Homo sapiens: one gene and its partners. The protein of the gene in region 2 interacts with the protein of the main gene of each other region in a pairwise test. Each region holds a gene or a part of one and is shown on either strand. Other genes may lie near its edges. The genes, in order: IQCB1, CALM3, CAMK2D and SCN2A.

Region 1 (8,099 bases), on a different chromosome or scaffold from region 2:
GTTGTAGCACTTCACCTATAATGTTTTCCCAGGAACCTATTGATTTGCCCCAAATTATATATGTTACCATATGTTTATATTTAATAATCTTTTTCAACTAATAATGACTAATAATAATCTGCATAAGTGCTTCCACAGGGCAAGCATTTACTGAATATGTGTCTGTAGTAATTTATCTTTAAAATGTCTCCATTTAAGTATTTTTGTTCAAATAAAAAAAATTTATCTCTACTTTTTGATTTACCACAGTGATTCCATCCCACTCCTTTTTTTTTTTTTTTATTAAAGAGATTGTCTAGACAGATTTTTTTTTTTTTATCAGATACCACAATTGAGCACGTAAGAATTCTCAGGAGGGAGGAATATCTTAAAGATTTCAACCTGGAATTCTCTGAGAAAAGGAAAAAGAAAAATCATATGATTAATCTTGTTTTCATTTGTTTTTAAGCCAGACTTTTTAGCTTCAAATTAATACTGATTAGATAACAAAATCATATTTTATTATTATAATAATAGTTGTACCTTTTGCTATTCCATTTCAGGACTCAGACGTCTACTAAGTAAACAGGAAACTGGGACTGAATTCAGTCAAGAACTTAGACAGCTTGTTGGCCTTTTAAGCCCAATGGTCTATCAGGAAGTAGAAGAGCAGGTATTAAGTTACAAAAAAAAAAAATTGCATGATATTTGCTGACTATATTAAACCTTAGTTTTCCTTAAATGTTCCTCACTTTCTTTCTCTTAAGATTTCAAGCAAAATACCCCCAAAACAGAAATATCTTTAAATTTTTTACTCAGGAGGTTGAGGCAGGAGGATTGCTTGAGTCCAGGAATTGGAGACTGCCCTATGATCACACCCATGAGTAGCCACTGCACCCCAGCCTGGTCAAAATAGCAAAACCCCATCTTTAAAATATAATGTTACAAAATTGTATCTCTCCGCCATTCAATCTGCTGGAAAACATAATTTCAATCTCCCATTTACATCTGTTTATAAATACTGCCACATCAGTTTCATTCATCATTTCTCATGAAAGCCCCATCTCTGATGTTTATCTTCTTTTATCTATAAGCTATTTAAACTTTTAAAACTGTTTTTCCAAAAAAAATCTCTAATTGTAGCAAACTGTATTTATGGTTACCTATGGCTACCCTTCTTGTTCTTTGAGATACAACAATAATGCCTTTTCCTTTGTGTAAGAAATGGTATTAATAAAATTATTTAGAAATTTGAGGCAGCAAGTTATTGATTATTTCATCATACTTCCTCTAGCATACTCAAAATGATGGCTCTAAATAGCCCATTCAACAGGAAGAGGCATATTGCTTTCTGATTTCCAGATAAAGACTTAAATATGGAAAACATCTAAAATGACTAAAGATATTTTTTAATTTAAAAGGAAAAGGGGACATTGTATATCCAAAATCCAAAACCAAAAAGACAATAAATTTAAAAATACAAGCAGAAACCATGAAAATAAGTCCAGTAAGGCAGGAGAATGGGTTGGGGGAGGCTGGAAGGAAGAGTGCAGAAGAAGGGAATTCCTTTTTTCTGTATATATGAACCATCGTGAGTTTAGATTAATCTCAAAACTATGCATATGCTCAAATTCATATTGATTAGGTAACAAAATCATAAAACTATATTTTATTATTAATAGTTGTACCCTTTGCCATTCCATTTGAGGACTCAGAAGTCTATTAAGTAAACAGGAGACTGGGACAGAATTCAGTCAAGAACTCAGACAGCTCACTGACCTTTTAAGCCCAATGGTCTATCAGGAGAATAGCATATCAAAAGCTTACAGAACTAAACAGAGATTCGAGCAACCATCCACAATGGTCAACAGAGCTTATAGTTTGAACCTAACTAGGTTGATTGCCTATTAAGTAAAAACATTAACATGTTAGCTCAAAAAAGATTATGAAAGGTCAGGCGGACTATGAAATCTTTGAAAAGGAAATGGAAGTGAGATTATTCTGGGAGAATTTGGAGCTAACTAGACTATATCTTGAGTATGTTCTAGAAATTGCCTTACCAAGCCTAACATACCTCCTTTGGGAGGTAAGGTTTAATATTCTTACCCATCTTGTTAGAGCTAGAGATTAATATTTGCCCTAACCTGATACTTTAAGAGGTAAACTTTTTTTTTTTTTTAAAGACCTTCCTAGAGATATCTCTAAATTATTTTCGGCATTTCAGAAACTACATCAAGCAGCATGCTTGATTCAAGCCTATTGGAAGGGTTTTCAGACAAGAAAGAGATTAAAGAAGCTTCCATCTGCTGTGATTGCTTTGCAGAGGAGTTTCAGGTAAAAAAATTTGGTGAGGGGATTGATGATCATAGAATCTTACTAGAGTACAGTTGAATTGAAATTTAGGTGATTTTTTTTTAATTTCCTAGTATGTTTCTTGTTATCTTTTCATTTTTTTTCCATACGTTTCTGGGTACCAACACTCCAGTAACCAGATGCACTTTCAAAGCAAAGGATGTAAGACAGGAATCTGATGTGTCAAATATGCAATCCTATCCACTTAATAAGATATTTGGGGAGGGGCCAAGCCTACAAAGGGAGCCAATGATAGTTATATTATTAAACCCTCTAAACCAACAGTTATCATAATTTCGTGTGTATAATTATAACAATAACATGTATGCGTATAAGAGTTTAAGTCTGTTAACCTGATTTTCCTGAATAAATATGGCATGGATGGATATCTTCATTGAATTATGATATAGTTCGGCATTTATTTCAAGTAGACTGAAAAGGAAATACTGAAGACATAGCCCACTTTCTGCAATGACTTAACCAATCCAGATCCTCCAAGGTCACAGAACAAGAAAAAATAACTTAGCTTCTAGGTAATTTATGGTAAAGAAGATCTGTTTCAGAGGTGACTTTTTCATGCAGCCTAACTTAAAGCCAAGCTTTAGTTTGCTAAAATGAAACTGGCATTTTACAGAAGTTAATTCTTTAAAGAAAACTGAAACTATTCTTTTAATAACTGCAGATGCATTTCTCAGTTATAAAAACATTTAAAAATAGCTCTGGGGTTCAAAATACTATGTAGTCACAGAGTTGAAGACATTGAAATCACTCTAGCTAACTGTGTCTCTTAGTGGGTATCCTATTAATTGATGAACGTTTTCTTCAGGGAAGAATTAAAGATGGATTTTAAATATTATTGGGCATGAATATTGTTGGTAGCAAAGAAAAGAATTAATTTTTAAATATATATCAAATGCCTAGTATATGATATATGTACTAGGCATTTAACAGATTCGAGTTTGTATCTCACTTGAGCAGCTTACTGGTTGAGTGAACTTGGACAATCCCCCACCTCTCTCAGCCTCAAACTTCCAATCTATAAAATGAGAATAATAGTTTATACACTTGTATGATCAAGATAATGTAAAATTTGAGATAATACAAAGTTTTTAGCATATTATCTGGCACTTAAAAAATGATAGAAGGAAAAATGCATATGGCACATTTTCTGTCCTTGAAAATTTACAAATCTAGGTAAACAAATAGATGCATTAAATAGGTAGTACTAATGAGAAGCAAGTATTATCCATCTATTATTACTCAAAGTTTATTGCCTATCTTACAAGCTGTTTTTTTTTTAAAAGCATTTCTGTGGTTAGATAAATTTGGGAAATATTGAGTACTTTTTGAGTCACAGTGTATATTTTTCTACCCAAAGCATCTGAGGTGCTCTTGGTATTGCCTCTGTGGTGAATTCAGATAGAGTAGGTATTACTTATGGATTCCACCTGCTATCATCCTTAGTTACCTGTCATCTTAAATTTAAGGGTACCCTTATACATGGATTCAGAGCATTAATGTTTAGTCCCACAAGAGTTCCCAAATTTGCTCATATACTCTCTCTTTCAATATTAAAATCTCTATTTAAAAGTAGCCCAGGATTACAGATTTTTTTCTACTTAGAAGTGTATCTATGGAATCTAATATTCCATTATTTTAAAATAGAAATTCCATTGCTTTCTTTATGTAACCAGAAGAGTTATAAATACTTCCATTAAAAAGATAAGCTGTGAAGCAAAAATTATTTAAGTCTCACATTTTGTGTTTGTTGCCTTTCCAGTATTTTTGCATTTGAGGTTCCAGAATATACTGAAATGCGGTTCTAACCTGTTGGATTCTATTTAATTTTTTAATTTTCAGTTTTCTCCAGTTCAGCACCTTCGCTCTTCTATTAGTTGTAACAGTTCATGCAAATGTCTCTTGCTTCCTTTGTAGCTTGGTTTTTTTTCAAAGGTTATTTCTGTCTTTTTGTGCTCAGGACTTATCTCAGTAATTTCCCCTTCCCATGGTTTTGGGAGAGAGACTGCCCACTGGTCACACTTATGGGTCCAGGTTGATTAGTGTTCTTTAGATTCAGCAAGAGGCATTCTTTTATAGTCACGCCCTTGCTAATGCACTTTCATAGTGGTTTCTTTTTTATTTAGTCATTTCTCGTATTCAGAAACTTTGTCTCTTAAGTACTCTTATTCAGCAAGGTTTTCTGAAGCGGCTAACAGCTGCTCTAGTTATCTTAGAGAAACCTCACAATTTACCTACCTCTATCATAGTGCTGATTTTTAAGTGTTTTAATTACATTTGTTGATTTCATCTTGAAACTGAGCTTCTTAAATGCAGATAGCATCTTTTTTCTCTCTCTCCCTCTGAGGCACAGTGTCTTGGCAGCAGAAAATTTGGTCAACTCCCACTTTAATGGTAAAAATTCAGATTGATTAAATGTAAATCATGGAATTTACTTATTTCAGAATATGACATCTGATCAGTCATTTCATCTTCAGAAGTGTAGTACAGATGCCAGGTGGTCCAGTGCCTACTAATTCTTACAAAGAAACCAGTTGGAAGAATAATTGTTTGATTTTTGAGTGATTAGAGAAACTCTGAACAAAATAACTCGATGTTATTTAATAATAAATGGGGGAATTACATTCAAAATCACTTCAGTTCCTAATAAATGTTTTCAGATATGAAAGTAAAACATATGAATCCAATAAGCACACCTGTTTACAATTTAGTCCCTATTTAAATCACCAAATCTCACTTTTTTTTTTTTTTTTTTTTTTGAGACGGAGTCTTGCTCTGTGGCCCAGGCGGGAGTGCAGTGGCGCAATCTCGGCTCACTGCAAGCTCCGCCTCCCGGGTTCACACCATTCTCCTGCCTCAGCCTCCCGAGTAGCTGGGACTACAGGCGCCCGCCATCACGCCCGGCTAATTTTTTTGTTATTTTTTAGTAGAGACGGGGTTTCACCGTGTTAGCCAGGATGGTCTCGATCTCCTGACCTCGTGATCCACCCGCCTCGGCCTCCCAAAGTGCTGGGATTACAAGCGTGAGCCACCGCGCCCGGCCCAAATCTCACTTTTGTCCTGTCTTTCTGGTTTGTACTTTACTTCCACCTTCATGCTCCATAGTCTTTTCATTTTTGCCATATTTGATAGCCTACATGCCTAAATTGTTTCCCAAACCCAGTTTTCTGACAGATTAAATATTCTAGCAGATGCAATTTTAATGATTACTATGTTTTTCATACTAATAGTGTAAAATGGTATTTAAAATATTGATAATGCAGTATTAGACATTATAATCTATAGCCAATTAGAAGTTAGAAACAGAGGTAGTTTTTTGTCGTTGTTGTTGTTTTGAGGCGGAGTCTCACTCTGTCACTCAGGCTAGAGTGCAGTGGCACGATCTTGGCTCACTGCAACCTCCACCTCCCAGGTTCAAGCTCCTGCCTCAGCCTCCCAAGTAGCTGGGACTACAAGTGCACACCATCACACCCAGCTAATTTTTGTATTTTTAGTAGAAATGGGGTTTCGCTATGTTGGCCAGGCTGGTCTCAAACTCCTGACCTCAGGTGATCCACCCACCTTGGCCTCCCAAAGTGCTGGGATTACAGGCGTGAACCACCGCGCCCGGCCACAGAGGTAGTTTTTTAAAAATCAGTTTAAAAGGAGGCTCTGTTTAGGGCCTGCTCTCTTTTACCCTCTATGAATGGGTAAGAGATAAAACATTATTATCTGCATGCTGTATAACCCAGAAGTTTTGAGGTGATGGAGTTCTGTAGAACAGGCAAGTTGCTATCAGCTATTCTTTGGGAAGGGAGAGGCCCTTACCTACTTCATTTCCAGCTTTCACAAAGAGCAAGAGACACTTAGAACTATTCAACTAGCCCTAGATCTTCTCTGGAATCTTTTGACACACATACACTTTTGAGGTCTTCTCTACCCTTGATAATAGGGATAAGAAAGAAGTTTCAAAACAAATAAATTCTCTACTCTGCCCTAAGTAGAAAGCTAGAGAAAATTTAAGTTGTAATTGATGGAAGAATTTATGAGAAACAACCACAGGCACACAAAATTTTATCAAAATCAAAATAAACTATTTTGAGTTGAAAATTCAGTTGAAAAATCATAATAATCCTAACTATACTATAATGAAGTCTGACTATTAAGAGTACAAAGCTATAGCCAAGGTACCACATTTGTTTACAGTTTAATTCTAAGAATACAGTTTAAAAAAAAGATCTAAGAGAAAATGTTCTTGAGGGAGACACATGTCAAATTAAGTCTATAGCGGTAAACTAAGTAGTTTATTCTGCCTTTCTTCTTATCCTCGTTTTCTTTTTCTGTGGGTGTCTGAAAGCATTTTGAGTATATTTACTGTAAACTGACACTTGTAGTCTCCTTACATAGTGATATTGGAAGCAACAAAAACTAGATGGGAATGGCTAAGGAGAAATTTTGGTGAATAAAAGCAGATAATACAGAAATTATAATTATATAAAATGTTTGTGGTCACATGAAAATTTTCATAACCAGTTATGAAAGTAATGTTCAGTTGTCAATAATTGAGAAATAGGCATAAGAAGAAAATAAAGATCAACTGTAATTACATCATGCAGTAAAAATCACTTGAAATTTTAATGTTTTTTATTTTTTTTTTGTGTAAGTAAATGTAAGTTTTTTGACACAATTTTGATGTCATTCTTCTATATCCTGATTTTCCTTTTACCTGACATTAGATCATCAGTATATTCTCATGTCACTAAATATTCTTCGAACATTTTATGTTTTCATAGTTCATAGAATCCCATCCCATCAGGTGAATGAACCAGTATCTGTTTATCCAACTCGCTGTTGTGAGACAAAGTTTGTTTTCAACTTGTTACTGTTGTAATACTGTGGAGAACATTTTTGAACATAAATTTTTACATATATATCTGATTATTTCCTTAAGAAAATTATTTGTAATAGAATTAATTGGTCATCACTTTTAAGGCTTTTTATTTATATATTTCAAATATTTTTCCAGACTTTTAATGCATATATTCAAATATTTCTACAGAAAGATTGCACAACAGCAGCAGATGACAAGCTATTTTATCATACCTTATTAACACTAGAAATTATCTTAAAATTTTTTCTGTTTACATTTATTTGATTACTAGTGAGGTTATGCATTTTTTCATATGATTTATGAAAATTATGTATAACACACTGTTTCCATCACAGATCCAAACGATCAAAGATGTTGCTGGAGATAAATAGGCAGAAGGAAGAAGAGGACCTCAAATTACAATTGCAACTTCAAAGACAGAGAGCCATGAGACTTTCCCGAGAATTGCAGCTGAGTATGCTCGAAATAGTTCATCCAGGTGAGTGGCAGTATCAACTTTATCAATATAAGAATATTTAGGTTATCTTTTAACAAACCAACTTTTCTAGCTACGTGATGATTTTTTTTTAAATTTGGACTTTTGTCCTTTTTCTCTGTTTTTCAGATAAACTTTATTAGATCTTCTGAGTTCAAAAACGGTTACTGTTTTTTCAATTCAGACCTATTAGTTGACGATGAACAATCTCCCCACCAGTTTTTTTTCTTATCCTTCAGATAATTTAGTGAAACATAAAAATGTATGCATAAAGATAGCTGTTAGAGACACAAAGATACTTCTTGAACTGAAACAAGGAGTTGGAATATTATTACATTCTGCCATCAGAGTTTAACTCATTCCTTAGTACAAATGTTGTGACATCTTCTTGCCGCCTTTGACAGA
Region 2 (8,052 bases):
TATTTGCAGCAACCCTGTGACAGAACTGAACATGGCAGTGCCTCATCTGCATCTTCCAGTCTTTTGGTGGAGACTGGCAAACGGTGGCCTTCAGAGCCGCTCGGGGCAGTCTGCAGCCTGTCACAGCCTCCTCGCCCCCACCCCCAGCCCCTTACAGTGCTGCCCAAAGGTCCGGGGAGCTGGACTTCTTGCAGGGCGGAACAGTGGGCTGGGAAGGCCCTGACCTGGCTCGCTTTTTCCATTCTAGGCCAGGGGAAAGAATGAAAAGCAGATGGGATGGCAGCCACCTCCCCACACTGCTGCCCTCCTCTCTGTTCTTTCCCTGACCCTCCCTGGGCATTGCCTGGTCTCGGTAACCAGAAGCCCATCCTCCCTTCTCACTTTCCCTAAGCCTCTTCCTCAGGTGTCAGGACCTAAGGGATGGCTCCAGGCTTTTTTGTCCATGGTGGGAGGTGGGGGGCAGGTGGATCAAGAGGCTCATGGGCCTGGGGCTACCAGGTTGGCATTTAGAAGCCCAACCACCCTGTCTTTTTTGAAGGCAATGCAGAAGAATCTTCATTTGGCCTCCCCACCTCCCCTTTACACTTTGGACTTTTCCAGAATGTGCATGTGTGCCGTTTTCTCCCTTCCTCTTTCCCCCTCCCTAAGCCCTCTCCCCTCTGTGATCATCATTTTGATTACCCCTCCCATTCTGCCTATTTGGGGCTTGCAAGTTCTTCTTCCGTTAGGTTTTTTTTTTTTTTTTCTAACTTTTTTAGATCAGTGATTGTTAATATTTGGGACGGGGATGGGGGTAGGGGAGGCAGGCAGTGGTTTGTTCCTAGCTTCTGGAACCTCTCCGTAGAATACTGCAAATTCACATAATAGTCTGCTTCTATTTCTGAGGCTCTCAGACTCGAGACTAGAACATGCTATAGACTTGGAGCCCCTTTCCCTGATTGTGAAAGGAAGGGGAACAGACCCACCATGGTCCCGGGATGGTGGTGCCTTCTTCACAGCATCAACAAAAACCAGGGAAAATGTGTCTTTTGGCTGCTAAAGCTAAATGTTGGGATTCAGCCTCCCCAACCCCCCAGCCCCGCTCCTGCCCCATAGGATCACTATGCCTGGCTGATGCCCAGCACACCAGTGCAGGAGAAGCCAGTCCCCGCATCTCCTCCCCACCCCCAAACCCCGCATGCAGCAAGGGCTGCCTGCCACCCACTGGCCAGTCCCCAGAGTGCCCAAGCTGGAAAGGGTTAAAAACTGCAGTGCAAGCCAGCTTCAGTCCTCTGCTGCTGCCCGCTGCAGCCCTCTCCCTGACGTTTGTCCCTTCTGCCCAAAAGAAACAAAACAGAATGGCCCTGTGCCCTCACTGTGCGCAGGGGGTGGAGCGCCTGCCTCCAGCCTGACCAGAGTTCTTTAGGTGCTTGAGCAACTCGGGCCGCCGGTTAGGAGAATTTTTGCCACTTGGGTGGACTCTGCCTGAGCCAACCGCCTCCAAATAGGTGACACAGAAACTAGCAGAGATAGCCCCAGACATCGTCCCTCTGCCCTACCCAAGGACTGGCCTGCTTCAGTTTGGAGCCTTCTAGAGCTTCTTGATGAGGCCTCCAGGGCAATCGTTCCCTTCACTCGGCCTCTGGGGCTCTCACTGATGAGATGCAAACCTGTGCCAGGCCTCACCAGCGCTGCTGGTTTGGGGCTGGGGCAGGCTTTTCTCCCGCCCCTGTGGCTCCCACATGCTGAGTTGAGATTGGAAGCCCGTGGGTCTGGGCAGCTTCATCGGGCCGTGCGTCCAGCAGGCCTGAGTGTCCAGCCCACCCTGGTACCCAGCTTTCTGAATCACCAGACTTTATCATCAGGCGCTGGCTCTGCCTCAGACCCTGACTCTGGCATGCTCCTCCCTGGCCCGGCGGGAATGGCACGTGGAGCTGGCCTCACTGGGGCCGAGGGTCTGGGCTGAGTGAGGAAGATGCGTCCGTGCTGTCCGGCCTGGTGACTGACTTTCCCCTTCATGCTTTTACAGGCTGACCAGCTGACTGAGGAGCAGATTGCAGGTGAGTCTGCTATCCCCCTCATCTTAGCTCAGGAAAGCCTCCACATCCCCAGCCAAATCTTAGCCACTGAGGAGTGACATCTGATGGGTGAACCTGTGTATCCCTTGTGTCACCTAACACTATGCCTTGTGCCTAGAATGCTGATAAATGTGTGTAAGAGCACACCAGTGCCCCAATGACACGAAGCCCCATGGCCCTGAGACAGGCCTTTACCAGACACCAAAGGCTGTGTTCCTCTCCTGGGCCTGGGTCATCTAGGGGCTTGATATCAGTGGCTGCAGGACGAGCCCAACTCTCTCTCCCAGCTTCAGCCAGGTTGGCTTAGAAGGTGAGCTCCCTGCCTCCCTGTGGGGCCTGCAGAGCTCCTGTCCCACTTTAGGAGCCGCCCAGGAGCTGGCTCGTCACTCCCACCTCTGCGCTTGCCTGCGCTTTGCACTTCCTTTCGCATGTGCCTGCGCCTGCCTGTTCTGCTGGCGGAAGTGCCTCCCCAGTGCTTTGCATGGGCAGCTCCTTCCCGTCCCTTAGCTCAGATGTCCCCTCGGGGAGGCCTTCCCTGACCCCCATCTCAAGTACACAGCCTTCCTTTACTCTCCTTCACATCACTTTATTTTCTTCATAACCTTTCTCGCTGTCTGAAATTATTTTCTTATGTCTTCACCTGTTGTATCTCCTGTTACTAGATGTGAGTTCCATTGAGTTTGGGACTTGGTTTTGTTGGTCCCTGCTATAGCCTTAATGCCTGCCTAGAACGTAGTAGGTCCTCCGCAAACTTTTGCTGGCTAAACAAACATCTCTCTCTCAGCAAGCTAGAAGAAATCCCTGGATCCCATCTAATTCATTTTTCTAACCCCTCCAAAACCCCAGAAGGGTCAGCTACAGGAACTATTGTGTAATTACAGATCCGTGCCTGCCTACCCGCCCATACTGAGCTGCCCGAGGACAGAGAGCAACTCTTGGTTTATCTCCATAGCCAGGGGCCAGCACACAGTAGACCAGAGTAGCGATCCAGAGAATGGGCCTCTGCTCCCCACCAGCTACCCAGCCCCCAGCTCTGCTGTCAGGTTCAACCGGCTGTGTAACAAGTACTAAAGGCCCAGCTTCTGCGGTGGGAGGCAGGAACGGACTTGCCTTCTCTCCTTTCTCCCCTCAACCCGCATCACAGAGTCACCTTTGCAGCTTCAAAATTTTGGCCCTGGGTGGCTATGGAGACCCCTGAGGAAAGCCAGAAGATGGCCTGGTTTAGTGATCATGAGCTCGGGGTGCCCCATGACCCACTCACTACCTGCCCTCCCCAAGAACAACAAGGCCTCAGCACAGGGAGGTGCCAGCCTCCCCAAAGAGACTCTTGCCATGTCCCCAGGGCCCAGAGGCTCAGGGCCACAGCTTCCCAGCTGTGCATGTCCCTCCCAATGCACCTGCCACCCATCTCCCAACTCTGGCCTTGTGCAACATAAACGGTCTGCTTTTCACCCTGTCCCCATTAGCAAACTGTCCACCGCCTCACCCCAGCCCACACCCTCTGGGAATAGGCTGCCGGACATCTGTTTTTGGAGGGCTTGGGGGTAGAGGAGCACCAGGTGCCAAAATGGGCCCAGTGGGAGGGCAAGAGCCATGTGCTTTTCTCCCTGCCCCTGATGCGGCCCCAGCTGTGGCCTTCCCACTCAGCACTGCTAGCTCCTCATCCTCCTGGCTTGGCAGCCGTCCCCTCGCTTTCCATCCCCCCATCAACCCCACGCACTGTCCGTCAGCCATGTTCTGCTGCCGACCACCCCCACGCTCACCACACGCAGTGGCTCAGCTCCTTTGGAAGCTGGTAGCACCCACGGCAAGGAACAGGGCTGCCAGTCAGAAGGGAGTGGATGCCTGCATTTCCTCTTCAGGCCGGCCAGAGGCATTCTGCAGCCTCCCCTCCTCGTCCCAGCCAGCCAACCCTGGCTAACACACTCAGACAAAGAATCCTTTCGGCTCTCATTCACTCCATGACTTTGGTTCATTTCATCATTTCAAGGGAGAAGTCAAAGCCAGGGACCAAACAGAAATGTAGAATCATCTAAGGACAGCTGTCAGACCATTTTCCCCACTGTCTTCACTGGCTGGCCAGAAAAATAGCTTCACCTAGCACAGTGTTGATGTTCAATAACTGTTGAATGAAGGTTGGAAGGGCTTTGCCCTGAGCACTGAGGAGAGAGAGCTGGTTGCGTGGGACTTGAAGTCTGTCTCAGTTTCTTTAGGTGGGACTGATGCCCTTGGCCTTCCTCCAGGGAAGGCATCCAGCATCCAGAGGTAAGGATTCTCCTGTGGACCTTGTGACCTCTGACTCCTCCCCCTTCTTCCCCCAGAGTTCAAGGAGGCCTTCTCCCTCTTTGACAAGGATGGAGATGGCACTATCACCACCAAGGAGTTGGGGACAGTGATGAGATCCCTGGGACAGAACCCCACTGAAGCAGAGCTGCAGGATATGATCAATGAGGTGGATGCAGATGGTGAGCCCCACAGAGCGCGTGGGCAGCCCTGCTCCTGGTCACCCCGAGTGACTGCAGGGAGCCTCTCTCAGGGTGATGGATGAGCCCGTGTCTCTCAGGGCCCAGGCCAAGAGCATTCTCCATCCTTTCCCCACCTTCCAGGGAACGGGACCATTGACTTCCCGGAGTTCCTGACCATGATGGCCAGAAAGATGAAGGACACAGACAGTGAGGAGGAGATCCGAGAGGCGTTCCGTGTCTTTGACAAGGTAAGCAGCCCTCTCCAGGGGCGGCTCTGAGACTGACGCCAGCCTTCAGGCAGACAGGCGGAACTGGAGCCACGGAGCTACCACTTCCAGGAGGTCCGGGTCCCGGTGCCAGCCTCATTGCCAACCTGCTCTGCCACCTCAGGCAGCCTCCCTCACTGTGCTCACTGCTGAGGGATGGTGATGACAGCCACCCCTCTCACTGCCTCTCTCCCCACCGGGAGAAGTGCCCAGTGAAAGGCTTTATCCCCAACCCCCAGGATGGGAATGGCTACATCAGCGCCGCAGAGCTGCGTCACGTAATGACGAACCTGGGGGAGAAGCTGACCGATGAGGAGGTGGATGAGATGATCAGGGAGGCTGACATCGATGGAGATGGCCAGGTCAATTATGAAGGTGAGTCAAGGCCAGGCTTGATCTCTGGAACAAGAAGAGAATCGCAGCTTCAGGAACAAGCCCCCAGATCCCTCTTGTTGGGGAGGGCCGCTCGCCACTTAGCCTGCCCGCCTGACCTCCTCTCTCTCTGCTTCACTCCACAGAGTTTGTACAGATGATGACTGCAAAGTGAAGGCCCCCCGGGCAGCTGGCGATGCCCGTTCTCTTGATCTCTCTCTTCTCGCGCGCGCACTCTCTCTTCAACACTCCCCTGCGTACCCCGGTTCTAGCAAACACCAATTGATTGACTGAGAATCTGATAAAGCAACAAAAGATTTGTCCCAAGCTGCATGATTGCTCTTTCTCCTTCTTCCCTGAGTCTCTCTCCATGCCCCTCATCTCTTCCTTTTGCCCTCGCCTCTTCCATCCATGTCTTCCAAGGCCTGATGCATTCATAAGTTGAAGCCCTCCCCAGATCCCCTTGGGGAGCCTCTGCCCTCCTCCAGCCCGGATGGCTCTCCTCCATTTTGGTTTGTTTCCTCTTGTTTGTCATCTTATTTTGGGTGCTGGGGTGGCTGCCAGCCCTGTCCCGGGACCTGCTGGGAGGGACAAGAGGCCCTCCCCCAGGCAGAAGAGCATGCCCTTTGCCGTTGCATGCAACCAGCCCTGTGATTCCACGTGCAGATCCCAGCAGCCTGTTGGGGCAGGGGTGCCAAGAGAGGCATTCCAGAAGGACTGAGGGGGCGTTGAGGAATTGTGGCGTTGACTGGATGTGGCCCAGGAGGGGGTCGAGGGGGCCAACTCACAGAAGGGGACTGACAGTGGGCAACACTCACATCCCACTGGCTGCTGTTCTGAAACCATCTGATTGGCTTTCTGAGGTTTGGCTGGGTGGGGACTGCTCATTTGGCCACTCTGCAAATTGGACTTGCCCGCGTTCCTGAAGCGCTCTCGAGCTGTTCTGTAAATACCTGGTGCTAACATCCCATGCCGCTCCCTCCTCACGATGCACCCACCGCCCTGAGGGCCCGTCCTAGGAATGGATGTGGGGATGGTCGCTTTGTAATGTGCTGGTTCTCTTTTTTTTTCTTTCCCCTCTATGGCCCTTAAGACTTTCATTTTGTTCAGAACCATGCTGGGCTAGCTAAAGGGTGGGGAGAGGGAAGATGGGCCCCACCACGCTCTCAAGAGAACGCACCTGCAATAAAACAGTCTTGTCGGCCAGCTGCCCAGGGGACGGCAGCTACAGCAGCCTCTGCGTCCTGGTCCGCCAGCACCTCCCGCTTCTCCGTGGTGACTTGGCGCCGCTTCCTCACATCTGTGCTCCGTGCCCTCTTCCCTGCCTCTTCCCTCGCCCACCTGCCTGCCCCCATACTCCCCCAGCGGAGAGCATGATCCGTGCCCTTGCTTCTGACTTTCGCCTCTGGGACAAGTAAGTCAATGTGGGCAGTTCAGTCGTCTGGGTTTTTTCCCCTTTTCTGTTCATTTCATCTGGCTCCCCCCACCACCTCCCCACCCCACCCCCCACCCCCTGCTTCCCCTCACTGCCCAGGTCGATCAAGTGGCTTTTCCTGGGACCTGCCCAGCTTTGAGAATCTCTTCTCATCCACCCTCTGGCACCCAGCCTCTGAGGGAAGGAGGGATGGGGCATAGTGGGAGACCCAGCCAAGAGCTGAGGGTAAGGGCAGGTAGGCGTGAGGCTGTGGACATTTTCGGAATGTTTTGGTTTTGTTTTTTTTAAACCGGGCAATATTGTGTTCAGTTCAAGCTGTGAAGAAAAATATATATCAATGTTTTCCAATAAAATACAGTGACTACCTGATTTGGCTCCTCTCCTCCTGTCTCAGTTTCTGGCCTGCCCCCCTCCAACACACATACACACCAACCCCAGCACTGACTCCTTTGGCCCAGAGGTGGAAGAGCCTCTCCTCAAAGCTGGCTCTGAAGCTGTGTCCAGTCAGTGCAGCCCAGTGGACGCCTCTGAACCACAGTTCTGATCCCAGCTAGATCGCAGGGTCATCAACGGCAGGGTCCTGTCCTAGAGATAGTCGCACAAATGGACTGAAAGGCGGGGACTGAGAAGGCTCCTCTGAGGCAGGCCCATCATGCCATGGGAGCACACAGAGAAGGGGTCAGCCCAGTCAGGTGGCAGGACTGAGCTGAGACCTACCTGAAAGATGGGCAGTCCCCTAGCCGGGTAGGGGAAGGACGGAAGGGCATTCCAGTTCGGGGGGACGACATGTATGGAAGCCCTGAGGCAAGAGAAGCCCAGACATCAAGGAACTGAAGGAAATCCAGCGAGACTGGGTGAGAGCCCCGAGCAGCTTGGAGCCCAGCCGGGTGAAGAGAGGAAGGCAGGGGCAGGCCCTGCAGTGGGTGAGCCTCTTGATGCTTTGGGGAGAGGGGTGGCATTCACTGCTTTAGTCTCACAGGCAGCCAAAACATGCCAAGTTTGGATCTACAGTGGTGAGAAAGGCATGGTCCTGAGCTCACAGGGAGGGCACGGGACTCAGTGTTGGTTTGAAGATCTGAAACAAAAAGCCCAAAACAATTGCAAACCACACAAGGCAGAGTACAAACCACTATGCGGTCACAGCCAAATTACAAACCACAGAAAGCTCAACTTTCTCGTGGCAAGTGGGGATGTGAGGAAGAAGCCGCCTCAACAGCGCCCAGTGGCACATTCCTGTAATCCTCCTACTTTGAGAGGCTGAGGCAGGAGGATTGCTTGATGCCAAGAGTTTGAGACCAGCCTGGGCAACATAGCAAGACCCTCCCATTCCAGTGGGGCTATAGTGGAGGGATGGGTCAGAATCCTCAAGGGCTCTTCTCATTCTCCCTCGGGGGAATGGGGAATGAGAGGTTAATAAGCATTGTCTTTAACTTCTGAGCTTCTCACACAGGAGCTGG
Region 3 (8,099 bases), on a different chromosome or scaffold from region 2:
TAAAAAAAAAAACAAACAAACAAAAAACAGAAATTAGCCAAGTGTGGTGGCCGTACCTGTAATCCCAGCTACTGGGGAGGCTGAGGCGGGAGAATCACTTGAACCCAGAAGGCAGAGGTTTCAGTGAGCCGAGATCGCGCCATGGCACTCCAGCCTGGGCAACAAGAGCGAAACTCCATCTCAAAGAAAAAAAAAAAAGACATTTGTGGTTGAACCTATACTTATATTTGACTCTTTGAAAAGAACGTCTTCTTGCCTTTTGCTTAGAAATTATCCTATTATTTTTCAATAAATTAATATTATAAATAACTGCAAAAGATTTTCCATAGGAAAAAAATCATTTAGTTAGTCTTTACATTAACAAAAAAGCTTTAACTGCATATTAAACATGACCAAAAGTGTGGTTGAGGCACATATTCATTTAACTCATGTTTCCCATACCTAACAATAAAGAATGGCTCACCCAGACAGAATGGCCTTCATCTGGAAGAGATGATGGTGTGTGTATGCTGTGTATCTGTGTGTGAATGTGTGTAGGTGTGTGTGTGTGGGGGGGGGAACATGTGCACTTGTACAGATAAGTTTGTGTGCACAGGTGTGCAAGTGGGACATTTTCACTAAAATAAAGCAGTTCTTGGCAACCACATCCTAGAAAAAAGTCAAGTATCATATCCCAAAATAGAAATAAAAGTATCTCAGAATATTTCTTTCATTTGCATTCACTGATAAAAACTAAATATAGCATATTAAATACATGTGGTGCTTTAACCATAAGTGCCCCTGTTCATTTGACAGGAAGCCGGCTATGTTTTGCCTAGCATGTTTCCCGAATAGGAAATTATTCGTGTGTGCATCCCTCCCCTTTTCTCACGTACCCTGTACTAACATAAATACTGAATTTTGATCCCTCTTTAATAGACTTTTTACCTCTTATCTCTTTGGCTCTTGCACAAATATCATGTTAAATTCTGTGCACTTTGATTTAAAGGAAAAAAAAGGTTTTAACTATCTGCAGAATATAGATTGATGACAACATTTATAGAATTTTCCAGTAAAGGAAAGTTTAGAAGTTTTCTCATCCTTTTCTGTGGGTCAAGCAGCACAGTGTCACAACTTATTGTAAAAATAACGATACCAGTAATCAGACAAAAGGGAATGAAAAGAAAGGAAAAATATTACATATTTAAATTAATTTATGTTACTTTCTATCTTCCTCTCAATACTAGTTTTGACAGGATATATAGTTATCAGATATAGACTTCCAGAAAACCCGAACAATTAAACTGGTGTCACCACTTGAAATGCTCATTTGATACTCATTTATTTTATATAGTATATGTTTCTCTTTACATCATTATCTATATTTATATTAAAATCATGGAGGTATATTCCTTTAGAAAATAATAAATAAAATACCTAGATAATATAGTATAAGAAAATGAACGTTACCTTACATTTTTGTTTGAGAACCGTAATGTAAGTTGTCATGCATGAGTTTAAAAGAATGTTGATTGATTATTATTTTTCAGTCCTTGATTCTTAGTGCCCCGACTCAGTTGTAGTTTCTGATTGCCACTTGTCTACAAAGAGTCTTCTCTGTGGACCGTTAGAACACTTATTGACCCTCTGAGTTGCTTTTACCACGCAGCTTCCACAGTGGTAATGATATATTCTTTAAAGTCAAATCCAGTTATGTTAAAGCAAGGGAATGATATTACCAAATATATTCTGCAGTGATAGCAGTAGCACATTGACAGAAAATGTAGTATTTTCCTCTTACACAACTGTAAAAATTAAAGTCCTTTTACATTCAACATAAAAAGTTTGATTTCCCCACTAATAATTGAAGATGTAATTTTTAGAGGAGATCTACACTTGTCATTTTTAAAAGCTATTGTGACACCAGCGTTTTCTCAGAAGATCTAAATTTTCATTGGATAATTTAATTGCTCCTAAGCAAAGTAATGCTGGATCCCCAGAGAAAGATGTATGTGTGTGTGTGACTTCAGGCTCAAGAATAAAATGAGGGAAGAAAGAAATATATTTATAACTGTGAACAATTGGAAGCTTGGAAACAGAATCCAACTTGAACAGTATGAGAATGGTTATATTAATTTCATACTCTGAAACCTGATTGGAGCTCCACTGAAGCAGCTCTTTGTTTGCTAAGGTGGCATAGCAACAGCAGACACGTCTGTTTTCTCATTGCACCATCACGGACATGGTCCAGCCTGTGTGTGACCATCGGAGACTAGCGATCATCATTCCTGTCAGTCATCACCATGTCTTTCACGTTCATCTTCAGTGGCTCTTTATCTTCATGTCTACATCTCTATGTAGACATGCTGCATCTAGAGACATTGGCTACCAAGGGGTTTAAGGCATCTCTGTTTCTATTTTCTGCATACCCACAGATAAACAACAAAGCCAACGTGGTAACCAGCCCCAAAGAAAATATTCCTACCCCAGCGCTGGTATACCTGGACTCTTTGTAACCCTTCTTAAGTTCTTTACATTTTTTTTTTTTTGTGGTTTCTCTCATTTGCTTTCACTATATAGATACATATATATAAATATTTTATTTCGTTGGGTGTTGGGTTTTGTTTTTTTTTTTTTTTGCTTTCTATGATATGACCAAGTTCATTTCTTTTGGTTTTTTTTGGTTAAGTTAGTTGTCAAGCAGTGTGTTCTAACATGAGATTATCTCATTTCGTTGTTGAACATTGTACTGATAGCTGTGGTCTCTGTAGTTGGAATTACTGCATGCTGCATTCAAAATACAGCGCTTTGGTTGCTCTTAGCTCTTCTGATGATGATAGTTCTAGATTATGCAAACAATGGTTTCTTCTTTTCATGATGCAAATGCTTACATCAAGGAGAGCTAATGGGATTGTTGCTAGACAACATGAAAGTAGACCTTATTCAGAGTTCTCGTTTCCCTCTTATTAAAACACAACAGGGCTTTGTAAGACTTCACTTTCTGAGATAAAGAGGCACTGGATAATTTAGAGCTTTCTGTTTATTATGTTTTAAATTAAATTTTCACTGTTTCACTTTAATCCAAAGAATGAAACTGCAAAGAATAGAGGTTTGAATTATCAGTGGAAACCAGTTATGTCTATCTCAATCAAATCCACACAATTAACGACTAAATTAGTCTAACACTTTGAGATGGTATTATGTTAAAATTCAGAATTTGAATACTGTCATTCAGTGCTGAGTTCCATAACATTTTCCCTAAACTGTTTCATATTTTGATTTATGATTTTCAGAAATGTTTTTCAATTATTTGCTCTTCTCATACTGTTATTTTAAATAAATTTAAAAATGTTAAGGAATCATTTCACTTGAGTTAACCATGAGGCTCCATTTAAAAACATTTAAAAGGAGGACACATCAAAATAACAGGTTATCTACTAGTAAAAAACAATGTTGATCACAGCTGTAGCCAAGGGAAAGGGAGAATGGAAGCAGGAGATATGTCTCTCAATATTACAGCAGTGTAAACTGTAGTGGTGGGGGAGTGTCCATGATTGAGAACTCCCAGTGGGTTGCAGTACCTCCCCATTGCCAAGATATCACACAATGAAAGTGCCAAGCATGTCACTGATGTATGCATATTGAATCTTTTTTTACATCAGTTATTTGAATGTTATTCTCCACTTGGGAATATTTCTTTGCTTTCTGATAGAAAACAATAGAAAACCCATACTTTCTTCATAAAAAAGCATGACTTTATAGCCAGATATCCTGTATATATAGTCCATAAAGTAGAAGTTTTTTAGATATGAATTAATACAGGATTTAATAGCAGTATGCCTCAAATTATAGTGATTACATGATTAGTTCTAGATTAGTAGATTAGTTCTAGTTCATGATTAGTCCCTTAAACTTTTTAAATGTTCCTTAAAATTTTTTTATGGTCTTTTGAAATGGATTCTTTAGTATAGTCTTTTTTTAAGTGTTGTCCAATGGCTCTAGATTTTATAAGGGTATTCAGTTACGTATTAATTAATGACACCATAATCGAGTTTCAAACCAATATAACTGAAAAAATATCTTCTCTGAGAATTTGAAATCATCTCAGAGTTTTAGCTCCAGTGTCCTTGGCCAGTTCTCTATGGGACAGACGTTCACAGGCCACTCATTAAAGAAGAAAGGAAAGCATAGGATTAAGTGAAACAGTGAGTGCCTCTTCAGATCTCTAAATATCAAAGCCTTGTTTGAATGCTGATCAAGAATAAGGTCTTTTGCATGCTGCTTCTGGGTAGGGAGGTTCCTATCTCATGGCCTCGCCAGGGAGATCTTTCATCAGAGATATTGTCAGCTGCAACTCTGACAGCAGTTAACATCGCTTTAGCTCTTGTCACTATTTCATTTTGTCAGCTGGCTCACTCTGCTCTGTCCTTCACACTAGAAAGAATGTACTTACCAATGCGAACTGTTTCTTTCTCTATTTTGTTCTCACTCAGGAGCCCCAAACTACTGTAATCCACAACCCTGATGGAAACAAGGTATTCAGAAAGAATCAACATCATCTTGCTTTAACAAGACTATACATCTCATCAAATATTCAAAAAAATTAATTCGTTATCTAAAAATAGGAAAGAAAATTCTAACCATTTTCTACCACACTTCCTTTTGGGCCTAATTTATCTAGAACTATGGACATACTTCTTGCAAATAAAAATGAATGACATCTTGAAAGAGAAACTAATGTTACCATGAGTCAATAAAAGTCAGGCTAAACATGAATGAAGTCTTTATGTCAAGATGACTGTGTGTCTTAAGCAATTCCATCTGGTCATTTTTTTCCCCATGACTTTGTGCTTTGTACTGTAGATATATTGTGCATGATATTTTAGAATTTCTGGCAATATTCCATTGTCTTCAAAAATATCAACTTGACTTTATAGGTTTTTTTTTTTGTTTAGTGTTACTTTTGAGTTTTATTCTATTCTGTTGTCAGAGTGGTGTTTTTTTTTTTTTTGGTTTTTGGTTTCTTAATTCCTTGTTGGTGATGATGTTGTTATTGTTGTTATTGTTGTTGTTGTTGTTGTTGTTTGGCATGAATTTGAGGTGAATCAAGGAGTTTCACTTTTTGTGAAATATGTTTGTTGTTGAGTAATATATATTCCAGTAACAGGGGTTTAACTACTTAGGTTGAAAGAAGACTAAATGTTTCCTATACATTGTAAATTATTTGTATAGCATGTTAACTAAATAACAGCACTAGCATACATGTCTATAGGATGAAAGACCTTTTCTGAATGTATTCCATGTGTCCAATTTCTTACTTTTCATATATTATTATATCTCTAAGGGAAGAAAAAATACTAAACTTTTCTCAAATATTAGATATAGTCATGCATCTTCTCCATACTCTTATCAATGATGTTTAAGACTTAGAAAGCACATTTTATCTTAAGACTCAGAAAACACATTTCCTCTCTGGTTTAACATTTAATTGATCAATATTAAAACCATTAAAGTAAAAAACATGAAGTGTTATGTTCTTTAATATGAGATTTATTTTATAGTCATGACACTGCAAATGGTCTAGGTCCCGAAAAGCCTTGAGGTAGTCAGGACCATCACATATGAGAACAATTTTTTTAATAGCATTAGCCAATGAAACGCCAAGCATAACAGCTGGAATGGACACTTCAGTAGTTCTAGCTATATCATTTGTAAGAGTTGCTGCATGATATTTCTTGCTGACATGAATTAGTTTAATTTTACAGTGCATGGGTTTACCTTCATTTTCAGCTTACATTTGAATACTAGGTCACATTAAGAAATGCATGAAGATTCCTTTCTTTGGTTTTGTGTGTATGGAGACTCTGGGTACACCTTTAATTAGTTTTTCCCTTGGTTTAAATATTGTATATGATATTTATATAAATTGATCACTTTTTTGAATACTGAATCTCTAAAATGATACTGGCTGGTGTTTACATTATTTTCCAGAATCTGTTTTCCATTACTGAGCTATTGATTGGAAGTTTGTTTCCAGTTATTTTTGGCTCTAGCATTTAATCATTCCAAGTAGAAAACTATGTCTTTCTTATGAATATTGCAAAATTTATTTGCTAGAAAATATTTTACTCATACATTATTAATGAGCACATTTATCACACCATTTTAAGAAATGTATCTTAATTCTGGCAGTTACAGTGTACTTTTAAGTGTGCTTAACAATCTTCCACTTAATTTGTAGTTTTACAAAGAAAGAGCTTTGTCTTTTTATTATGGAGTAGGTTTCTTATCAATAACAGCCAGTTGCTATTTTTGAAAAGAATGAAAAAAGTCTAATTGTCCTTGAAAGTAAATTATTCATTATAATTCCATTGTGCTGAGGACAAACATGAAAATTCTTCTCAAAAGTACTTTCAGCATATCTCAGCTTAACCCCCTTAGCTTCTTCATTAAATGATGCGGTGAAATGCTTTCTCTCCCTATAAAGGTGTAAGGCATACAGGCCTTAACATAGTGCCTGACGCAAAGAAGGTACTCTTTATTGATTAATTAATTGGGAATAGAAATTTTTTCTATTTTAAGTATCAAATTCATTCGGCTAACATATTCAATTGCTTGTAGACACACAGAAAAAGCAAACCTTATAGGGCACTGTAACACAAAACACATCCTTACACAGTTTCTAAAATAAACTGCATACTTCCGCTGCTTCTACAAATCACCTGGATTTATACAGCTTCGGAGATTAGGCAACCAGAGTACTCCGTTTGAAATGTTTGCAGCATCAGACATTTTATTTCTGTTAAAAACCACTTAATGTGTTTGTCCATTTGCATGTCAGCATATGCACATAGCCTGCTGAAGAATTTTGCATGATATGTATGTCACTAGCCAATTTTTAAGGAGGAAATCAAGCTATTCATTGCGTGCAACCTAAAAATGTGTTTTCTTCTCATCAGGAGTCAACTGAGAGTTCAAATACAACAATTGAGGATGAAGATGTGAAAGGTATGATTTAACCAGAAATGGAAAATCCTACCTCAGAGCTTCACATATATATATGAAAAAAAAAGTGCTTCAAATAACTAATAAGTTTAGGAAGTAGGCCTATCCTAAAGCACAAAAATATTTTATTTATGAGTAAAAAATATTTTTATAAGTACATAATTATTTCAACAATATGTTACTTTTGTCATTTTTCCTACATATTCTTTTATATATTTTGAACTGTAGACATGTAGCATATTCTAGCACATTGCAGTAATGACAACTAATAATGAGTTACTAGTTATAGGAACATAACAAATTGTAAATTTGTCAGTCAAAAAGTAATATAAAATGTATACACATTGGGTACATTCATAAAACCTATCTGGAAAACAATTTATATTCAAGGATACAGTATAAAAATAACTTTTTAACTTTTAGTCATCTCAAATAATATCAGTAGAATTTTCTATTTGGCCGCCTTTTTATCCTAGCTTTTTGTGTACATTCCAAAGGTATTCTTGACCTCCATTCACTTTGGTTGCCAAGGTTCTTTTAGCTACATGTATGAGTCATTGGTAGTGTTTCTACAGACATCTTCTCAGTGCCCCTGCACACACATACTGAACACACATTTGCAGTTAGGTCACCTCCTTTGGCCACATCACTGTTTTAGAAGTATTACTTTTGTATCAATTGCATTTGCAGTTTTATGTTGTTTTTGTAATTCATTATATATAACTACAGTCTCTATAGACCAGTTGTCTAGAAGATATTCTGACAAACAGCGGTAACAGTAGGATATTTGAAACAGAAATATTAAAGGAAAAGAAATATAAATTGGGAGCAATGATCCATAAATTAATTAAACCTCATCTGAAAAGATTACTGACCTAATAGTATCACCATAAGCTTTAATTCTAAAGGTAGTGTTAATACAATAAAGTCTTGTAAAGTTGTATTCATATTTTAGAATAAAGGATTTGGAAATTCTCAGGTCAAGGAGACGTGGGGTCAATTTAGGAAATAAAAATGGCTGTAGATCACAACTTGGCAGTCAGCTCTGCTGACTTTTTCCTTTTTGTTTGAATAGAACAGCTGATGCTGTTAAAGTGTACTCTCTATTTATATAA
Region 4 (8,069 bases), on a different chromosome or scaffold from region 2:
TTTGCTACTGAGGATTAATTATTTCTTCCAGAAAGTCCATATGCCACCAATAGCCTTTACTGAGGAACAAACTGATTTAATCAGAGGAGATACTTCATCTTACAAACAAGGATTTAATTTCGAAAAACAGGCCACCCAAAGTGAGTTACACCAGCTTTGCTCATTATCATCAACCACCCTTTCTTCCTGTGTCAAGGAAAAGCATTTTCAAACCTTCCTTCTGTCTCTTCCACGACCTTGGTGTACTTTTGTTTCTTCTTTCCTCAATTTTCTCTCTACTGACTTCATACCTTACTCTACAAAGGGCTTAGGTTTTTCTAATCTGCACTAAAGTTAAATTTCCCTCAACAGTACCTTCTTTCTCCAGGTATAAAATGTTATCTCTCCTACCTTTCCCTGGCAAACTTCTTAAAACTTAAATATACTCCCCAGATTTCTCATGTCCAATTTAGTCCTCAGAGCCCCTGTCTCTGCCATTCAACTAAACCTCTTCTCTTAAAATTAATTTATGACCTAATAATGATAACTAAATCCATCATCTTTACTCTATCCTCTTATGAACCAACCCCTTTATGGGTTTTCTATTGTTTCTGATCCCTATTTTGATATTCAATTTACCTGCTTGGCCTCCTATGATATTGTTATTCCGTCAACTTCTCACATTATTTTCACACAATTTAATAATAGTTTTCTACACTTTTTTACTCTCCTAATCTTAAGATTATGCCCCCAGTCATCTTCACTTCTCTTTTGTTCCCCATTAATGTTTAATTATGTATGACCTAATTTTGTCCCACAACTGCATGCAGATCTATACATTCAGCCTTAACCACTAATCTGATACATGGATATAACATGTTCAGCTCCTTATAAAACACCCCAGTGTATGAGTATGTGTCAGTATGTCAAATGCATAACACCAAAAGCCAAATTCATTATCCTTACTTTTACTGCCCCAGGGGAAAAAAAATAACAACTGCAACAACAACACCGACAACAAAAGCTTCAAACAGATTGGGTTATTTACCTTTCTCTACAGTTTCCCTATACGATGCCTATAGTTCTCCATTTTCTTGTATTTACTTGCCTCACCTATGTACCTGGAATAAGCAACTTTCTGTTTTTCTTTATTTATATCCAACTCACTCTTAAAGATCTAATTTAACTGTCACATCCTCCTAAAATCTTTTCCTCTGAGCCCCCCATGGACAGAAATTAACATTATTGTTTTGTTCTGAATCCCAGGATGTAACATGGTGCCTGGCACAAGATAGGTGCTGATATTCCTGTCCCATTCACTTTCTCATCTTTCTTCATTCCTTATTTTGAGATATAGTGGTATCTGCACATGTATATTTGCATGTTAACCTCCCTGAGGTAAACTCCTTGACTAATTATTTCTTTATCTCTACCATGGACACTTGGTTGGTACGTGGTATTCCACAAATATATGTAGACATGACACATTTTAATCCCTTTCTTTTCTCAAGATATTGAAGAAGTAGGGTAAAGCCTGTGCCTAGTAAGTGAACAAAGGAGGAAAGGCTTGGACATGAGATGATATTCTTATAGTTGTCAATAGATTAACCTATATGTACAATCTTTTCTATTAGGTAGGAGGGAAAGCCATGTGGCCATCCACATCATTCATGAGCATAGGGTAGAAGAGTATACACCACCTAATAATGAAAAAGGCATACTAAGAAACAGAGTTTCCATAGTTGTCATTCAGTTTTCTTGGATGCTTTGACAAGAAACCTAAGAAAATTGAGCACTGCATATAATATGCCATTGAGCAACAGTATACTGAAAGAAACTCTATTTTACAGAATATAACCAAACACACACACACATGCACACACACACACACACACACACGCACAGTGAATATCATCATACCTGGTCTATGCCATCCTGATATGTTCACACTAGAGGTGAATTGTGTTACTGCTATGGAAGATGTGGAACTGTCAATCACTGTTCTAGCCTTGCCTTATTGTAATTTAGTACGTGACTCTGGGAAATCCACCTTATCTCTCAATTACAATTGCTTTTCTTTAAATGATAATGGGGATAAATGGTTAAATATCTGTAATTCTAAAAATCTCCATGTATATGGAGCCATGTAGAACTACAAACTCTATAGATTCCACACATTTAAAAAACATGTTTTTTTCATGGTTTGTCCAAACCATTTTATAAAATCATTCCCCATAGCTTTCACAACCTCTGACATGGCAAAACTACCTCTTTACAGGAAAACAATGACTGAGATAAAAACATCCTGATGCACCTCCACCGCCTGCCACCTCCACCATCACACACACACACACACACACACACACACACACACAGCTCTTTCCACAGGAGAAAGAAGTGAGGCATTTAAAAACAATCTTACAAAACTATTTTTAAAATATTTGTAAAATCTCTTTAAATTTCTCTAAATGAAAATCAGTGGTTTTTAAATATAGGATTTCTATATGTCTTTATTCCTGTTATTCTAATAATAATCAAGCAAGGATTTAAGGGAAATCACGAGAAGCAGCAGAGAGAAGCAAGGCTGTTGCATGCAACTTCCACCTCCTGAGTCATTCCACTCTTTAACACAGATAATGTCACATGACCTAAAATAATTTAAAATGTGAGCACCTTCTATAATATCAACTATTTAAAATGGCCACGGTTCTATTATCCCAAATCCAATAAAATACAGAAAAAATCAATTTTCATGGCAATTAATTTGTGTTCAGCATACTCCTCACATCCATACTGGGGGAGGAGGGAGGGTCTATAGTCTCATTCCAAGTCTATTAAACACATTACATAAATCTTGATTCATGTGGGAGAAATGACTTACGTATTATTTCTAAGAGGTAAAAATAAAGACATAAACAATCTGTACCATCATAGCCAGCAGAAATCGTTCAAAAGGCCTTTGGACTCAGAATATTGGCTTGCCTCTGAGGCTGCAATCAGAAGGCTCAGCCCTGAGCTTTGGCAGAGCCACTGCCATGTTAATCTGCTTCATTATATCTCTACAATTTGTTCACTGCATTAAGGAGCAGTATTTCCCTTGTGAAAGGAAAACCCATCCTTCACTTTGAAAGCTTTACCTTTAAAAGGTAAACAAATACAGCCAGAGACAGAGACCAACAGCTAGAAAGCCAAAGAAATAATAAAACACGGTATGTCATAGTCAGAGCTCATTTCAGCCTAGGAAGATTTTAAATTGCACAACAGCTAGAATTAGAGCTTTTGAATCTCTTAGATCTGAATACAAGCTAACAAAGCACACATCTTATATTAAATGTCATTCTTAACATAGATAACAATCCGTGGATAAGTCAAAAATAGAATCATGCTGGCTTACCTGAAATAAAGAAAAATGTAAATCATAACACAGAATCCACGTATGTGTTGAATATAACAGTCTCCAATGCAATTCTTCAGAATTTTTACTGGAGTAGAAAGTAAAATCTCACATGTGCTCTATCCTCATTAAAGAAGAAAAAAACAAGAAAGGATGACCACAGCATCCTCCCTCCTTTGCCTTAGCTTTCTGTTCTGACAGTCATTCGATGGTACCCAATGTCTGTTAGAAAACAGCATGCTAAATTAGAAAAATAAATAAATAAAGGCAGCATCTTACATGACAGCTCCATCTCCTGGTCAAAAGTGGAACCATCTTAATTCACGTTCCTTTGGCTATGTAGCAGTCAGCACATAAAATTAAATGATGTACAGCCCATAATTCCACTCTATTTGAAATCAACTACTTTAATTAACTGTAATTTAAACATTTAAGAAGAATTATAGTATGAATTTTTAGAATTATAATTCTATTTTGGGGATTCAAATTTCTTTACATTATGTTTAAACTAAATGGAAGCTTTTCCCATCATTGAAAACTTAAGATTTATTTAACTTTATATACCATCTGAAAAAGTAATATGTATCTCCTATAAAACAATTTTAGATGTCAAGCTTATTGATAATGAACATCACATCTCTTTGTGGAGAAGTATAAGTTTTTGTCACTAGAGAAGTTAACACATAACACTTGTGTTGCTATTGTTTGGAGGAATGTTGAAAGGTTAAAGATAAGGCAGGAAAATTAAATGACTTAAAGGCAAACTTGAAAAATCTTTAGTTAATCTAATCTAACTACAAAAATACAGACGACAAGTTACATGCAACATGAAATTTGATAATTGTAGTAGTATACTATAGTGTGTAGTTACATCTTCTTAGAGAGATAAGAGAAAATTAAATTGTCAAAAGAATCCATTTGGTAAATGACACCATTTATAGAATCAAAGTTTTACTGAGCATATGATGTTCTCAATATATGTTTGTTTAATTAATTATTCTTCTTATGAACAGTTGTGAAGGCCAGGATCATTTTTTTAAAATTTGAAGTAAAAGGATAGGCATTTTTTTTCTCCCACTTTTTTACAACACCATTTTAATTTGGGGCCAAATCGATCTTTAATTTCCTATTGCAGTAACGCTGTCCATGGTGCTGAGAACCAATTTTAGAACTCATGGTGAGTTCTAGGTCTTAAACGGGTCTGAAATACTGTCTTTGTCAGATTTGATATAAAATTTACCATTAAAAGTCCCCAGATCAGCCAGAATAATTGATAGTATCTAATATAAAAATAGTTAAGTAATTTTTTTATCCACAAAATATGTATATACACATGTCCATCAGAAGCCAAAATGCTGATAAATACATTTAATAAAATACATGATTGCAAGCTACACTTTCTTTGGATTCATAATATTTTATTTTCTGTGTGCTAAAGTTATACTGAATAGATTGCTTTAACATAAGGTTGTTCCCACACTATTAAATAGACGAGGAAACCAAAGCCCACTCTTCAGTAACTTATCCAGTATTAATAAGCAAGTCAGAAGAACAAACCCAGTTTCTTAAATTTTACCTTACTTCCATTTCTACAACATTATTAAGATGTATTAGTTTGGTTATGAAAATATATTTTTAACACTGAACAAATAAATAATTAAAGTGACTTGGTAGATCAAATTATTTTAATGTATACACTCAACTATTTCATCTCACAAGTTTCCTGCACTATCATAAGATACATAAGCTCTCAGGGCACATAATTATGATAATTTTGCCAAATTAATTTGCAATTTCAACAAATTACTCCTGATGGCCAAGAAGCTTAAACCTGTAAGATTAAAGCCTAAGATGCCACAAATATGAAATATTATTGATACTTTATTTTTAAAATCACGGGAATTTTACAATAATTTATATAAAATTTAAATGTTTTTCTTAACACAGTAATCATTTTTCCCCATAGTCTTGAGGGTAAATTTTATCCTTAGGGAAGATGTGACTAACTGATCCTGGGATTTTGTGTACCTCTAGGCACGCCACCTCATGCCCCCAGGGATACAATATCCCAGTTTCAAGACCATAGGGTTATATGACACAGAAACTGGAGCAATCCTTTTCAACCCTAAATCATATCACATACTCTTCTTCTCAAAACTTTTTAGTAGCTACCCATCTCCTTGTGAATAGTCTATGCCTTCCCCAGTGTTCACAATGCTCACAATCTAGACTCCTTTACTTCTCTGATGTTATTCTTGCCCTCACTCACTCTACTTTAGCCATTTTATCTTCTTTCTCATTACTCAAACATGGCAGGTATGTCCATTCCTTAGGAGGCGTCCACCTTTTAATCTCTTTGCCTGGAAATCTCTTACATGGGCTCCGTATGGCTCACTTCCCTCATTCTTGTCACAGCTCACAGCTGCCTTCTTACTGAGACTGGCCTTGACCCTCAATACCACACACTATCCCCTCCTCTGGTTTTTCCCTTTAGTATTTAGCTGACATACTAAATATTTTGTCTATTGTCTGCCTCCTCCAAGAAAAATGTAAATTCCATGAAGGCAGAGATGTTTGCCTGTTTTGATCACTTCCATAAACGTGGTTCACAGAACAGTACCTGAAATATAAGACCCACCCAAATAATGAATACATGTCCTAGACATAGAAAATTCATACATTTTTATTAATGCACCATAGGAATGCTATTATTTCTGTGTGTGGATTCCTATGTTCTTATTAATACATACGTCAGAGAGTGTGAAATCAATGAAGCAAATGGCATGTTCTTTGAGTAAACTATTTAAACTATGTTTAATTCATATACTTAAGCAGAAAACAGAACATATAGTGAATATTCCATAAATATGTTAGGTTAATGATGCCAGTGTTGAAATTAGACCACTGTGGTCTTGAATTGTTTTTAATGGAGTTCTGACAAAATTTTGGTAAAATATTATTGAACAACTCTTATGTTAGCACTTTTTTTTCCAGGATAAACAAACTTTGAGGTAACTATTGTAATTTTATTTTTATGGAAAATGTTTAATCTCATCTAGAAAATTTTAGCTGTTTTAAAATAAGTTGTAAAAATAGCAACATGTCACATGGTAGACATGTGTGCGTGTGTATACAAATATATATATACATATATACACACAGACACACAAGTACATACACACACTAAATCTTTATGAAATCAACTTCAGTTAGGCATTCATTTCGCTAGTAACAACAAACCAATGCCACATAATTTCTCAATAACATGTCTCTTGGGCATTGCTTTAATGATAAAATCCACACCTTTATTTTGGCAGCTTGATTTTCAAAATCATTTTAATTTATAGAGATAAAAGTAAGTAAGTCTTATTTTACCTCCATTAAGTTGTGCATATTGACTGTTATTTAATTTTTTTCTACCATTTATCATTCACCCAGACTTTTAAATATCATCCATCTGATTCAGAAAATAAAAGACTAAGTTCCTAGTTTATACCTAATATTTGTTTACATTTTTCTTGCCTCACTTCTTCTTATTTAAAATATCTGCATTGGAGAAAAGCAAATGAACAGACATTTTTAAATGGCAATTTCATTTGTACAGTTTTAGTCACCTTAAAATATGCTAACCTCTTTTAAATTATTGGTCACCAACATCAAGACAGTTTTAAAAAGTTGAACTCCATATCTAATGTTTTTCCTGCACTATTATCATTAGAGAATCAAGGACCTGTAAGCCAAAATGGGCATATTTTTATGCCATGTTCAAAGACTGCTAATACTGATGAGGAGGACAGCTTATTACACTAGTTCCAATTAGTATGAATTGTTGACATTTAATAGTATGTTATCAAAAGATGAAGAAAAGGAAAAGAAAAATTGGGCCATCAAAAGGACATAATTTCCATAAACAAAGTCTGACAAACAGAATAATTCCCATAATTCCTTGAAAGACGAGGTGTTACAAATAATGTTATAAATATATAACATTTATTGAGCACTTTTTATGTGCCAAGCAATGTGCTAAGTACTGTACATAAATTATCTCATTATTCCCAGCAACAGGTCTGTGAAGTAGATTTTTATCTTTTCCCTCTTAGAGATGAGAAAAATAAAGCCAAAGTCCCTCAGCTAGTAAACGATGTCTTGACCTCCAACTCAGACCTCTGTTCTCAATGCTTATGTTCTATTTGAGTTCTACTTAAGACACAGGAGATGTAAACTATGAAGAAGTGATTCCGTTGACCTTTGGAATTTATGTGCTTTTTGTCCTCAGCTCCAGTTGTTCAACAGTTGTGTAAGCCAAGGGTAAAACAAGAGTGGAAAAGAAGGAAGGTCTTTAGGAGTACCTCCCTTCAGTGTGGTATTTCAGAGCAGGTGATGGATTTGCAATGGATGCAAGGATTGACAGAAGAAGATAAACAGAAGGAACTAGAGTTATTAAGGAAAATAAATTGTCAAGAAATTAATGAGTGAAAGAACAAGGCAGAGAGGTGAAAGAGAAGTGCAGGACCCATAGAGCTCTGCCAGAGACCCTTCTCTTCCCCGAAGATGGCTGTCTGAAAGAGAGCAGCATTCCATGATCCCCTGAGCAACAAGGAGTTCTCATCTACAAGGCTCACATGATCCTGTTACCAACACCAGAAATACACTAATGCTAGCTGGTAGCACCTTGCTGAGGGTAACTGAAATACAC

The links.
Region 1: the proteins of CALM3 (region 2) and IQCB1 interact in binary tests that used the Homo sapiens proteins (3 or more experiments, as listed by UniProt).
Region 3: the proteins of CALM3 (region 2) and CAMK2D interact in binary tests that used the Homo sapiens proteins (3 or more experiments, as listed by UniProt).
Region 4: the proteins of CALM3 (region 2) and SCN2A interact in binary tests that used the Homo sapiens proteins (3 or more experiments, as listed by UniProt).

The regions. Positions count from the first base shown.
Region 1 is NC_000003.12:121,789,671-121,797,769, reverse strand, and holds part of IQCB1 (IQ calmodulin-binding motif-containing protein 1), read left to right. Parts: intron 1-542; coding exon 543-652; intron 653-2,203; coding exon 2,204-2,313; intron 2,314-7,554; coding exon 7,555-7,697; intron 7,698-8,099. UniProt on the Homo sapiens protein: Involved in ciliogenesis. The function in an early step in cilia formation depends on its association with CEP290/NPHP6.
Region 2 is NC_000019.10:46,603,819-46,611,870, forward strand, and holds the end of CALM3 (calmodulin-3), read left to right. Parts: intron 1-2,008; coding exon 2,009-2,039; intron 2,040-4,005; exon of another isoform or gene 4,006-4,378; coding exon 4,379-4,522; exon of another isoform or gene 4,523-4,663; coding exon 4,664-4,770; exon of another isoform or gene 4,771-5,027; coding exon 5,028-5,163; exon of another isoform or gene 5,164-5,187; intron 5,188-5,279; exon of another isoform or gene 5,280-5,306; coding exon 5,307-5,335; 3' UTR 5,336-6,964; downstream 6,965-8,052. UniProt on the Homo sapiens protein: Calmodulin acts as part of a calcium signal transduction pathway by mediating the control of a large number of enzymes, ion channels, aquaporins and other proteins through calcium-binding. Calcium-binding is required for the activation of calmodulin.
Region 3 is NC_000004.12:113,499,351-113,507,449, reverse strand, and holds part of CAMK2D (calcium/calmodulin-dependent protein kinase type II subunit delta), read left to right. Parts: intron 1-2,414; coding exon 2,415-2,474; intron 2,475-4,472; coding exon 4,473-4,514; intron 4,515-6,938; coding exon 6,939-6,987; intron 6,988-8,099. UniProt on the Homo sapiens protein: Calcium/calmodulin-dependent protein kinase involved in the regulation of Ca(2+) homeostatis and excitation-contraction coupling (ECC) in heart by targeting ion channels, transporters and accessory proteins involved in Ca(2+) influx into the myocyte, Ca(2+) release from the sarcoplasmic reticulum (SR), SR Ca(2+) uptake and Na(+) and K(+) channel transport.
Region 4 is NC_000002.12:165,234,945-165,243,013, reverse strand, and holds the start of SCN2A (sodium channel protein type 2 subunit alpha), read right to left. Parts: upstream 3,601-8,069; 5' UTR 3,374-3,600; intron 1,955-3,373; exon of another isoform or gene 1,900-1,954; intron 1-1,899. UniProt on the Homo sapiens protein: Mediates the voltage-dependent sodium ion permeability of excitable membranes.